3 linked regions of the Homo sapiens genome follow. The protein of the gene in region 2 interacts with the protein of the main gene of each other region in a pairwise test. Each region holds a gene or a part of one and is shown on either strand. Other genes may lie near its edges. The genes, in order: MYOC, COL3A1 and AP2B1.

The links.
Region 1: the proteins of COL3A1 (region 2) and MYOC interact in a two-hybrid assay, tested with the Homo sapiens proteins (one study listed by BioGRID).
Region 3: the proteins of COL3A1 (region 2) and AP2B1 interact in binary tests that used the Homo sapiens proteins (3 or more experiments, as listed by UniProt).

The regions. Positions count from the first base shown.
Region 1 is NC_000001.11:171,639,000-171,642,733, forward strand, and holds part of MYOC (myocilin precursor), read right to left. Parts: intron 1-3,734. UniProt on the Homo sapiens protein: Secreted glycoprotein regulating the activation of different signaling pathways in adjacent cells to control different processes including cell adhesion, cell-matrix adhesion, cytoskeleton organization and cell migration.
Region 2 is NC_000002.12:189,005,373-189,008,872, forward strand, and holds part of COL3A1 (collagen alpha-1(III) chain preproprotein), read left to right. Parts: coding exon 1-85; intron 86-833; coding exon 834-887; intron 888-972; coding exon 973-1,080; intron 1,081-1,564; coding exon 1,565-1,618; intron 1,619-2,127; coding exon 2,128-2,235; intron 2,236-2,512; coding exon 2,513-2,566; intron 2,567-2,662; coding exon 2,663-2,770; intron 2,771-3,500. UniProt on the Homo sapiens protein: Collagen type III occurs in most soft connective tissues along with type I collagen. Involved in regulation of cortical development.
Region 3 is NC_000017.11:35,607,686-35,611,419, reverse strand, and holds part of AP2B1 (AP-2 complex subunit beta), read right to left. Parts: intron 3,279-3,734; coding exon 3,033-3,278; intron 1-3,032. UniProt on the Homo sapiens protein: Component of the adaptor protein complex 2 (AP-2). Adaptor protein complexes function in protein transport via transport vesicles in different membrane traffic pathways.

The sequences.
Region 1 (3,734 bases), on a different chromosome or scaffold from region 2:
GCAGGAGAATTGCTTGAACCAAGGAGGGGGAGATTGCTGTGAGCCGAGACTACACTATTGTACTCCAGCTTGGGCAACAAGAAAGAAACTCTGTCTGAAAACTAACTAACTAAATAAATAGGCTCCCAAAGATATGGTGTTTGAGATTTGATTTTAGATAAGGACTGGGGATGGGTTGGGGGTCAGAGAAGGGAAGATAAAACATGATTGGACTGTGCTGATAACAGTTGGGCCTGAGTGATGGCTACATTGGAGTTCATTGTAGTCTCTCTACTTTTGTGAATATTTGAACAATTCCATAATTAAAAACCTCATAAATAATAAATTGCAGGGCAATGTGCCTACCTTAGAGTAGGGTATTCAAAATCAAATAATATTTTAATTCCACTAGAAGGGCTGGTTTGTGAATAGGTGAGTCGTAATTTCAGGAATATGGAGACAGTCCTCAGCATCTTCTTAGATGTCTGAATTTCAATAATTAAAAATTCATGAAAAATTAGCTGGGCATGGTGGTAAGCATCTGCAGTCCTAGGTACTTGGGAGGCTGATGTGGGAGGATTGCTTGAGCCCAGAAGTTCAAGGCTGCAGTGAGCTATGATCCTGCCACTGCACTCCAGCTTGGGTAACAGAGCAAGGCCCGGTCTCAAGGTCTCAAAAAAAAAAAAAAAGAGACCGGGCACAGTGGCTCACACTGAAATCCCAGCACTTTGGGAGGCCGAGGCAGGCGGATCACTTAAGGCCAGGAGTTCAAGACTAGCCTGGCCAGCGTGGTGAAATTCCATCTTTACTAGAAATACAAGAATTAGCAGGGTGTGGTGGCACATGCCTGTAGTTCCAGATACTCAGGAGGTTGAGGATCACTTGAACCCAGGAGGCAAAGGTTGCAGGGAGCCGGGATTGTGCAACTGTACTCCAGTCTGGGCAACAGAGCAAGACTCTGTCTCAAGAAAAAAAAAAAAAAAAAAAAAAAAAAAGAAGTGTGGCTCATGTCTGTAATCCCAGCACTTTGGGAGGCCAAGACAGGAGGAGTACTTGAGCCCAGGTGTTCAAGACCAGCTTGGGCAACATAGGGAGACTCCTGTTAAAAAAAAAAAAAAGATAAAAGTTTACTGCATGACTTAAGGTTTTTTCCCTTGTTATATGCAAATATTCTTGTAAGAAGTAACATATTAAGCTTTATACTTTCAGTAGAAATATTCTGTCTGATTCCTTTCTGAGACCAGTTTTGCATAATGGAGAGGGAGTGTGTGCAGAGTTCCTATAGGAGTTTGGGGTGGGGGTGGTGAGCCATACAGAAGGGAAGCGGGTGGGCAGCATTGGTTAGACAGTAAGTGATCATGGTGTGCTACATGTCTCTACTCTTGCTTAGGATTATGATCTTACAGCAGTCTTGAATACAAGGATGAGGCAATAGTCACAAGGAACAGGCTTGGCTATTTTAAAATGCAGTTTGGCCAGGCCCAGTGGCTCATACCTGTAATCCCAGCACTTTGGGAAGCCAAGGTAGACAGATCACTGGAGCCCAGGAGTTCAAGACAAACCTGGGCAACATGGTGAAATCCCATCTCTACAAAAACTACAAAAAGTTAGCCTGGGTGGTGATGTGTACCTGCAGTCCCAGCTACTTGGGAGGCTGAGGTGGGAGGATCACTTGAGACCGGGAGGTCAAGGCTGTGGTGAGCAGTGATCGTACCTCTGCACTCCAGCCCTGGCGTAGAGTGAGACCCTGTCCTCCCCTCCAACCTCCCAAAAAACCCATCACATACACATAAAAACAAATAAAATGCAGGTTTGATGATTATTCAGGTGTGGCAAGGCCAACATCCCAGGAGGCAATTGTCACTGAAAAGCAAGTTAAAGCAAAATTATGGAGACAGTAAAAAGATCAGCAGTTGTTGGGTGAGGAAGGGATGACTAGGTGAGGCACAGACGATTTTTAGGGCAATGAATACTGTGTATGATACTATAATGGTGGACACATGTCACTATGCATTTGTCTAAACCCATAGAAGGCGCAACACCAAAAATGAACCCTAATTTAAACCGTGGACCTTGGGTGTTGTGCGTGCTGATGCAGGTTCATCAGTTGTAACAACTGCTGTGGCGGGAGATGATGATAATCGGGGAGGCTGTGCATGTGTGGGGGCCAGTAGTATCTGGGAACTGTTTGTACTTTTCTCTCAATTTGGCTGTGAACATAAAACTGCTCTAAAAAAAAATTATCTTTACAAGTTGTTGTACTCACAGAGCCCAAGAGGAAGGGGGCACACTAAGCCCAGGAGGCCACCTGGGGAAGCACCAGGGTTGCTCCAGAAGAGGGCACCAGGGGAAAATGTGGGAAAGCGCCTTTATTCTTTCCATGGGAAGGAAAGAAAGGGGAGGCAGGGTAAGCAGGTTTAGGATTGGGGAGTTTGAATAATTTCAGCAGGATCTGGGGTCACAGGAGTTATCTCTAATTGTCTGGTACCAGGCCCTGGGTGATTAGGTCAGGGGGACAGTGGCCTTGAGTTTGAGCCAGATGGAGGTGGTCACAGGGTGTGGGCTCTGGATTGGTTGGTTTGCATATGAAAGCTGTCCTCCCAGGTGAGTCCTTTGCTAACCGTAGGAACTGGCTACCCCTGGGAGGGGCAGTCCCTCTCACGTTTGCAAGGCCCAGACAGCAAAGCATCAGAATAAAAAGACATGCTTAATACACTGGGCTTTTCTCTTGCTGAACCTCTGAGTCACTTCTCTGCCCTTTGAGCAACTTGTTCCCCGCTCAGGATTCTCAGGTGTTCAGGACAGTGGGAGGAAAGTCAGTGCATCCCCTGAGGCCGGAGCGCCTACACAGCCGAGAGGGTCGGGAAGACATGTTCTGCCTTTGATCATTTGTTTGCTCAGCTCTCCTAAATTTAGATTTCAGGCAGAGAGGATCACCACAGAAGTCTTAATCCTCTGGTTCTACCACATTTCATCAAAGCCACACATTATTTTACATTTTCACATCTCCAGAGTCAGGGTACCTTGTTTGAGTTGCTGGGGTTCAGCTTCAACAAATTATAGTACTGGAAAAAATTTCTCCCTGGAAGGAGGTGAAGAAAACATTCAGCTAGCTCTCAGGTGCAGGCTGGGCCAGACAGCCATGCTGCCCACAGTGAGCCAGCTCAGTAGCTGCTGCAGCTGCCTGCCCCTGATCCCAGCTACCCTTCTCTCCTCTCCACCCCTGCCTCTGTGTGGCTGCAGTTGTTAGCCTCCCTAAAAGTGTTAATGCCCTGGAGGTGGGTGGGTCCTCCATCCCTGGGATATCCCTCAGTCTAGAGTGCACCATGTAAGTAGTTAAAACCCATAAGCTGGCCAGGCGCAGTGGCTCATGCCTGTAAACCCAGCACTTTGGGAGGCCGAGGTGGCAGGATTGCATGAGGCCAAGAGTTTGGGACCAGGCTGGGCAACATAGCGAGACCCCATCTTTACAAAAAATTAAAGAGTTAGCTGGGTGTGGTGGTGCAGTCTGTGGTCTCAGCTACTCGGGAGGCTGAGGCAGGAAGATGACTCTTGAGTCCAAGAGGGCAAGGCTGCAGTGAGCCATGATCATGCCACTGCACTCCAGTCTGGGTGACAGAGTGAGACCCTGTCTTAAAAAAAAAAAAAATTAAAAAAAGAAAGACTCATAAGCCAAAATGTATATGTAACTGAGGACATCCTCAATGTGCATTCCAAACTCCAGGGGCAATTGGGAGTACCCCCCGGGACATGGC
Region 2 (3,500 bases):
TAACGGTCTCAGTGGAGAACGTGGTCCCCCTGGACCCCAGGGTCTTCCTGGTCTGGCTGGTACAGCTGGTGAACCTGGAAGAGATGTGAGTAGCAGTTTTTATTCAACCAGCCAGGTAGAATTTGATAATTTATTTCAGCAAAGGTGAAATTGAGCTTTAATGTCTAAGAGTGTAAATATGGCCACATAGCAAAGTTCTTCTATCTCTAATAACAGAAATTCTTTCATTACAATTTAGGATAGACTTAAAAGCTCTTGTTCATTAGTATTTACCCAATGAATAATCATTTGTGGAGAAAATATTATCTCTAACTAAATTAGGAAAAAAGTTAGTGGGGAGAACCACAATTGACATGTTTTCTGAGTGAAAATATTCTACGGTTATCTATGGTTAGTCTTTTATTATTTTTAAAGAATTTAAAATTAATATTATTTATAATTAACAAATCATAATTGTATACATTTATAAGGTACAATGTGATGTTTTAATATATGTATACAATGTGGAATGATTAAAGCAAACTAATTAAACTGTAGATTTCCACTAACAGTTTAGATCACTATTTCTTAAACTTTTATTTATTAGAGGTCTGTAAAGACTCTTTTTGGATATCATTTTTCTAATCACCTCTCCTCCATGAATACACTAACTATCTGTCTGGACATTGTGACCCTTTGAAGGGCCACACTGCTTTGTAATATCTAAGATTTCTTACCCCCAAGAACCAATTTTAACCCCCTTGAGAATTATATTGCCCTGCTGAGAATGCATGGATGAAATGGCATTTGGAAGGTTTCAAGAAATTTTATTTCCTTTCTCATTTTTTAATCAGGGAAACCCTGGATCAGATGGTCTTCCAGGCCGAGATGGATCTCCTGGTGGCAAGGTATAATAAACACATGTGCAATTGATTTGTGTTATCAAAATAAGTGATCATCATGTTTATTTTGTACCTATGAATTTGTTCACAGGGTGATCGTGGTGAAAATGGCTCTCCTGGTGCCCCTGGCGCTCCTGGTCATCCAGGCCCACCTGGTCCTGTCGGTCCAGCTGGAAAGAGTGGTGACAGAGGAGAAAGTGTGAGTTCCCAAAAGCAGCATCTGTCTTGTTTGTCTATTTCCTTCAATAAAGACATTTGTAGGTAGAAGGTAGAATGTCAGATCTGCCAACCAAAATATCCACTGTCATTTGTTTTACAGTTTTAATGCTAGTTGTTCCTTAGACAAATGTGTGAATAAGTCAATACCAGAAGTACTTGGCAGTAGTCAATAAAGAATTCATTACTGAAACCCGAAATCATATTAATCAGACCAACTATCTATATGCTGGGTAAATGCAAGGCCAAGTTAACAGGGCTCTTGCCCAACTTTTCTGTCTAGATCCCCTGAGAAAGCTATAAACAGGGCTTTAGCACTTTGAAGGCAAAAACAATATTAACTTCCAATAATTGCATGCATACTATAATTCTATTATAATGAAATTATTTACTTTTGAAAACGAAATTGTGTCAACACATAAAACTAGTTCCGTGTATGTCTTCTCAATTGAATGTTTTCATCTTAGGGCCCTGCTGGCCCTGCTGGTGCTCCCGGTCCTGCTGGTTCCCGAGGTGCTCCTGTAAGTTTTGTCATTTTTTGGTTTTATTTTGTTTTGTTCTTTTTTTAACTCATTCTACAGTGTAGGAAATATTTTATTTTCCAGCGTGTTCAGGAAAAAAGAATGAATATATATATATATATATATATATATATATATATATATATATATTTGTTCTATCTATAGATAGATGATAGATAGATAGATAGATAGATAGATAGATAGATAGATAGATAGATAGAACAAATATAAACTTTCCTTTAATGACAATGATATGGAAAGCAGTTCAGGATCTAAAAGTTCTTTGGAGCCAAGGATAGAAACATCAGTTGTTAGGGATCCATGCAATGATCAGTCCAAAATGAAAACAACCACAGAAACAAATCTCATTTCCTATCTGAAGTGTCTGTTGATGGGGGATTTTTTAGCTGATAGAAAGCCATAAAATAGATTTAATTATTATAAATTCTATTTTATTTTTCCAATATGTATGTGTGTATATGACTTCAATTCAAAATATGTTTCTAAAGGGTCCTCAAGGCCCACGTGGTGACAAAGGTGAAACAGGTGAACGTGGAGCTGCTGGCATCAAAGGACATCGAGGATTCCCTGGTAATCCAGGTGCCCCAGGTTCTCCAGTAAGTGCATTCATTTTGTTGGAAAATCCCTTCAATGTATACAAATTTTAGAGATTAAGAGAAGAAAGCTTTCCATCTCTAAAAATATGTACTAGAAGAGATGAGAAATGGATTTGAAGGCTAATTTGAAACAACAATCAGCATGACACAATGGGAAGATTAAAGAAAGAAAAAAAATTTCATCATGATCCCCATGTTTCTTGATCTGATCTTGAATGTACAGTTTCCCAGTGCTTTTTAAGGCCTTCACTCCTATGTACACTTCCTTTCTTTCCAGGGCCCTGCTGGTCAGCAGGGTGCAATCGGCAGTCCAGGACCTGCAGGCCCCAGAGTAAGTAGCACAGAAAGATATTACAGGTCCACATGTTTCAGATGTCTGCATTTCAGAAAGATATTCTGGCATTGTGATGTCATGATACTTTCTTAGGGACCTGTTGGACCCAGTGGACCTCCTGGCAAAGATGGAACCAGTGGACATCCAGGTCCCATTGGACCACCAGGGCCTCGAGGTAACAGAGGTGAAAGAGGATCTGAGGTAAGACATCACTTATACGTATGTGTATTTAATTTGCTACAATCTTCCAATTTTCAGAAACACAGCGCATTATGTTTAAATTGAAATAGAGAGACGCAATGCATCCACTCAATTTAGAAACTGAACAATGACTTTAAGACATTCTCCATCACATTAAAAATGTTTCTACCACACTATAACAGGAGAAAAATACCTTTTTAAAAATTTGATCAGGTATCCATCGTATCAGAATAATGACATCTGCCCAATTAACCAAATAAACCCTGTCCACATTGCTATCCCACTAGAGATCTCAGAATTACAACATTCATAATTATCTGCGTTTATGTAGTGCATTTTACTTCTCAAACAGCTTCCATGGTTACTATTTTGTTAATGATACTATCATTCCTAATACTTTCTATTCCATGCCTTTGGGTAAATGAAATAAAAACAATTATCCCAACAAATTACACTCCCCTCTGTCATGTCAATATTGGAATTGTAGCTCACAGGTGTTTGCTTACATCAGTCATCCAGAAGGAAGAATGATAGAGAAAACTTGTGCTCTGACACTACTGATTCTTACATAGTGGAACAATATCTTTCTTGATAATGAATTGTAGTTATTATAAATCGGTGATCACGTGACCCTAAAGGCACCCAAATAAATCTTTAGTAAAATAATTCTGATGACACAATGAATGAATTATTTTTAAGGCATTTTCTTGGACTAGCAATGTATTCTTAG
Region 3 (3,734 bases), on a different chromosome or scaffold from region 2:
ACTGTATAGGTTCTGCATTAAAGAATTTACATTAGCATAGAGATGCTGCCTCAAACTGGAGTCGCCTGTAAGTTAGAACTCATTTTCCCTTTGAGCCATTCCATATTCTTAGCACCACTGAATATTTAATAAGTTTCCACGGGGTACATGATATTCTGCCCACCTGGTTGACGGTTGCAGCACAAACACTTTTCATCTCATCTGTCCTCAGGTAGAGAATTATAGATAGTTGCTCAGAATAACAGTGAATCAAAAGCAATGCCAAAAACACAAGTTGGTGCCAGCTAAACATTCTGTAAAGTAGATACTACTAACTTTAGACAATATTTATTTTTCTATATTTTTGAGGAAGGGTCTGTCTTTGTCACTCAGGCTATAATGCAGTGGTGCAATCATAGCTCACTACAGCCTTAAACTCCTGGGCTCAAGGGATTCTCCCACCTCGGCCTCCCAAGTACCTGGAATTACAGGCATGCACCACCACGTCCAACAAAATTTTTTTTTTTTTTTTTGAGACAAGAGTCTCGCTCCGTCACCCAGGCTGGAATGCAGTGGCACGACCTCGGCTCACTGCAAGCTCCGCCTCCTGGGTTCACACCATTCTCCTGCCTCGGCCTCCTGAGTAGCTGGGACGATAGGCGCCTGCCACCACGCCCGGCTAATTTTTTGTATTTTTAGTAGAGACGGGGATTCACCGCGTTAGCCAGGATGGTCCTGATTTCCTGACTTCGTGATCCACCCACCTCGGCCTCCCAAAGTGCTGGGATTACAGGCATGAGCCACTGCACCCGGCCCCACCGAATTTTTTAAAAAAATTTTTGTAGAGACAGGGTCTCAGTTTGTTGCCCAGGCTGGTCTCAAACTCTTGGCTTCAAGTGATCCTTCTGCCTCAGCCTCCCAAAGTGCTAGGATTATAGGCATATGAGCCAACATGCCTAGCCAACTAATTTCTTTATGTAATTTTTAAAAAGGGGGCTGGGTGTGATGGCTCATGCCTGTAATCCCAGCACTTTGGGAGGTCAAGGCAGGTGCATCACCTGAGTCAAGAGTTTGAGACCAGCCTGGCCAACATGGTGCAACGTCGTCTCTACTAAAAATACAAAAATTAGCCGGGCATGGTAGTGGGCACCTGTAATCCCAGTTACTAAGGAGGCTGAGGCAGGAGGAGAATCGCTTGAACCCAGAAGGTAGAGGTTCCAGTGAGCCGAGATCATGCCACTGCACTCCAGACTGGGCGACAGAGTGACACTCCATCTCAAAAAAAAATAAAAAATAAATAAAAGGTACCATATGGTGTTACTTAGGGGAAATAAAAGGCAGGGTTGAATCTTCTAGTACTGGTGGTGATGCTCTGTCAGAAGTCATGGTTAAAGCATCTGCACTTCCACACCCACACCGACGCCCACCCTTATGCCTAGGTTGAAAGATTTCTAATGGTAGTTACTACCATAAAAACCTTAAAAAATTATGACTTGCTTCATCCTGTGGATTTAATACTAATCTTGAAGGATAATAAACAGAAGCCAAGGCTACCTGTAAAATAAAATGAACCAAACAAAATGTCAAAGCAGAGAAGTGAACAGGTAATTTACAAATGAGAGACAGCATCTATGTCCAGCCAAATTCTAATTCTCCATTTAAAGTTCACTAAGAAAATATTCAGGCCAAGCACAGTAATTCACTGAGGAAGGCCAAGGTGGGAGGATTGCTTGAGGCCAGGAATTCATGACCAACCTGGGCAACATAGCAAGACCCCATCTCCATAAAAAATAAGGCTGGGTGCGGTGGCTCACACATGTAATCCCAACACTTTGGGAGGCCATGTCAGGTGGATCACGAGGTCAGGAGATCAAGACCATCCTGGCTAACACGGTGAAGCCCCGTCTCTACTAAAAAATACAAAAAATTAGCCAGGCGTGGTGGCAGGCGCCTGTAGTCCCAGCTACTCAAAAGGCTGAGGCAGGACAATGGCATGAACCTGGAAGGCGGAGCTTGCAGTGAGCTGAGATCACGCCACTGCACTCCAGCCTGGGCGACAAGGCAAGACTCTGTCTCAAAAAAAAAAAAAAAATTAGCGGGATGTGGTGGCATGTGCCTGCAGTCCTAGATGCTCAGGAGGCTGAGGTAGGAGTGCTTGAACCCAGGAGTTCAAAGTTACAGTGAGCTATGACTGCACCACTGCACTCCAGCTTGGCCACAGAGCAAGATCCTATCTGTAAAAAATAAATAAATAGATAGATAAATAATTTTTAAAAGGGAATATTCAAAGGTTATCCACTGATTAACTCTTAGTGTTATGCACCTTTCAGTAAACATTGCATTAGACCAAAAAGGTAGCACTTTAAAGAAAGTGGCTATTTTCCTCCATCTTCCTGGCAACAATATTTAATGACCCATCCAATATATTCAATTAGTACCCAATTCAAATGAGCTTTAGTTATTACTGGAGTCAAACATATCACTTGGGACTTGACCTTCTTCATTATATAAGCAAAGTTTAAAATGTCAATAAGGAAAAGGTCCCAAAACTTTAAGGTGTTAAGCTATGTTCTGGCTGCTAAACATTTACAACATAACCAAGTTGGCTAAAAATAATCTTGCCCTAGAAATTCCCCTATAGAGAAATGCATGATAATAATTAGGTAATAAAGATCATTTTCATTCAGTTTCTAGTCCCACACCACCAGAAAATACCACAAATATTGATCTGAAGAAAATAATCTTAAATATATATAAATTTACGGCCAAACCTCCTGAAGAAAATGATGAAAGTTTTCATCATGGGCAATATGGGCAAATATGAGCATAAGTACAATACAAAGATTTGCTTTAAGATCCCTGCATTTTAGTACTTGGTTCTCACCTCAAAAACACCTAGGATATGAAATATACAATCTGTGAGACACACAAAGTCATGTTTCCCATAGCTACCCCATAACCCAGTATTCCAAAGACAAGGTTCATATTAAACACGCTTTAACAAGGGACTCATTTTAAATACTGCTCTCTTTGTAAAAGCAGAAGCTTATTACCATTGGATTTGAATCTGCTATGAGATCCCGTAGAGAATCCAGAAATCCCTGATCTTCCACCATTTGGGCATTGATATCATGGAGTTTTGCCACGCAGACTGCTGCTGTTTTCCGAACATAGGGATCCTCATCCTTCAAGCACTTGCGGAGCGGCTCACAGAGATATTCTGTAATTTTGTCTACCCGGATGCACCCCATGGTTCTGACTGCCAAGGCTCGAATCAAAGGATTAGGATCTTCACAGTCCTGCAGAAAACAATCACCAACAACTGTAGGTATACATGGTGGCTAAAAGTAAACAGTCCAGTTTATGTAAGCTGCAAAAGAATTACCTCATTAATTTAAGCTTCCAGATACATTCTACATGAGCTCCAATCTTCCATGCTATTCCTTTCCTAAGTACAAATCTTAGCTGCCCTATTTAAGAGTTTAGGTGAAGAAGTCATTTAACTGTTTTAAATACAAAATGAGAAACAGCTCAGCAGGATTCACTCTAGTGCCAGGCAGAGGTTTAGGGAGTTCGTACCATCCCACAGCCATTAGGATCTACCCTAAAAACAGGAAAAGCTTTTGGGCTTGTATTCCGGCACAGGAAAAAAAAAAAAAAAAAAAAGAGGAGCTGTAAAGACCGTGCCCTACTCCACAGTGAGTTCCTAAACATCAAATAGAAAAGAGAGCTAGATTTCTGTGGCCTGCAGCCAA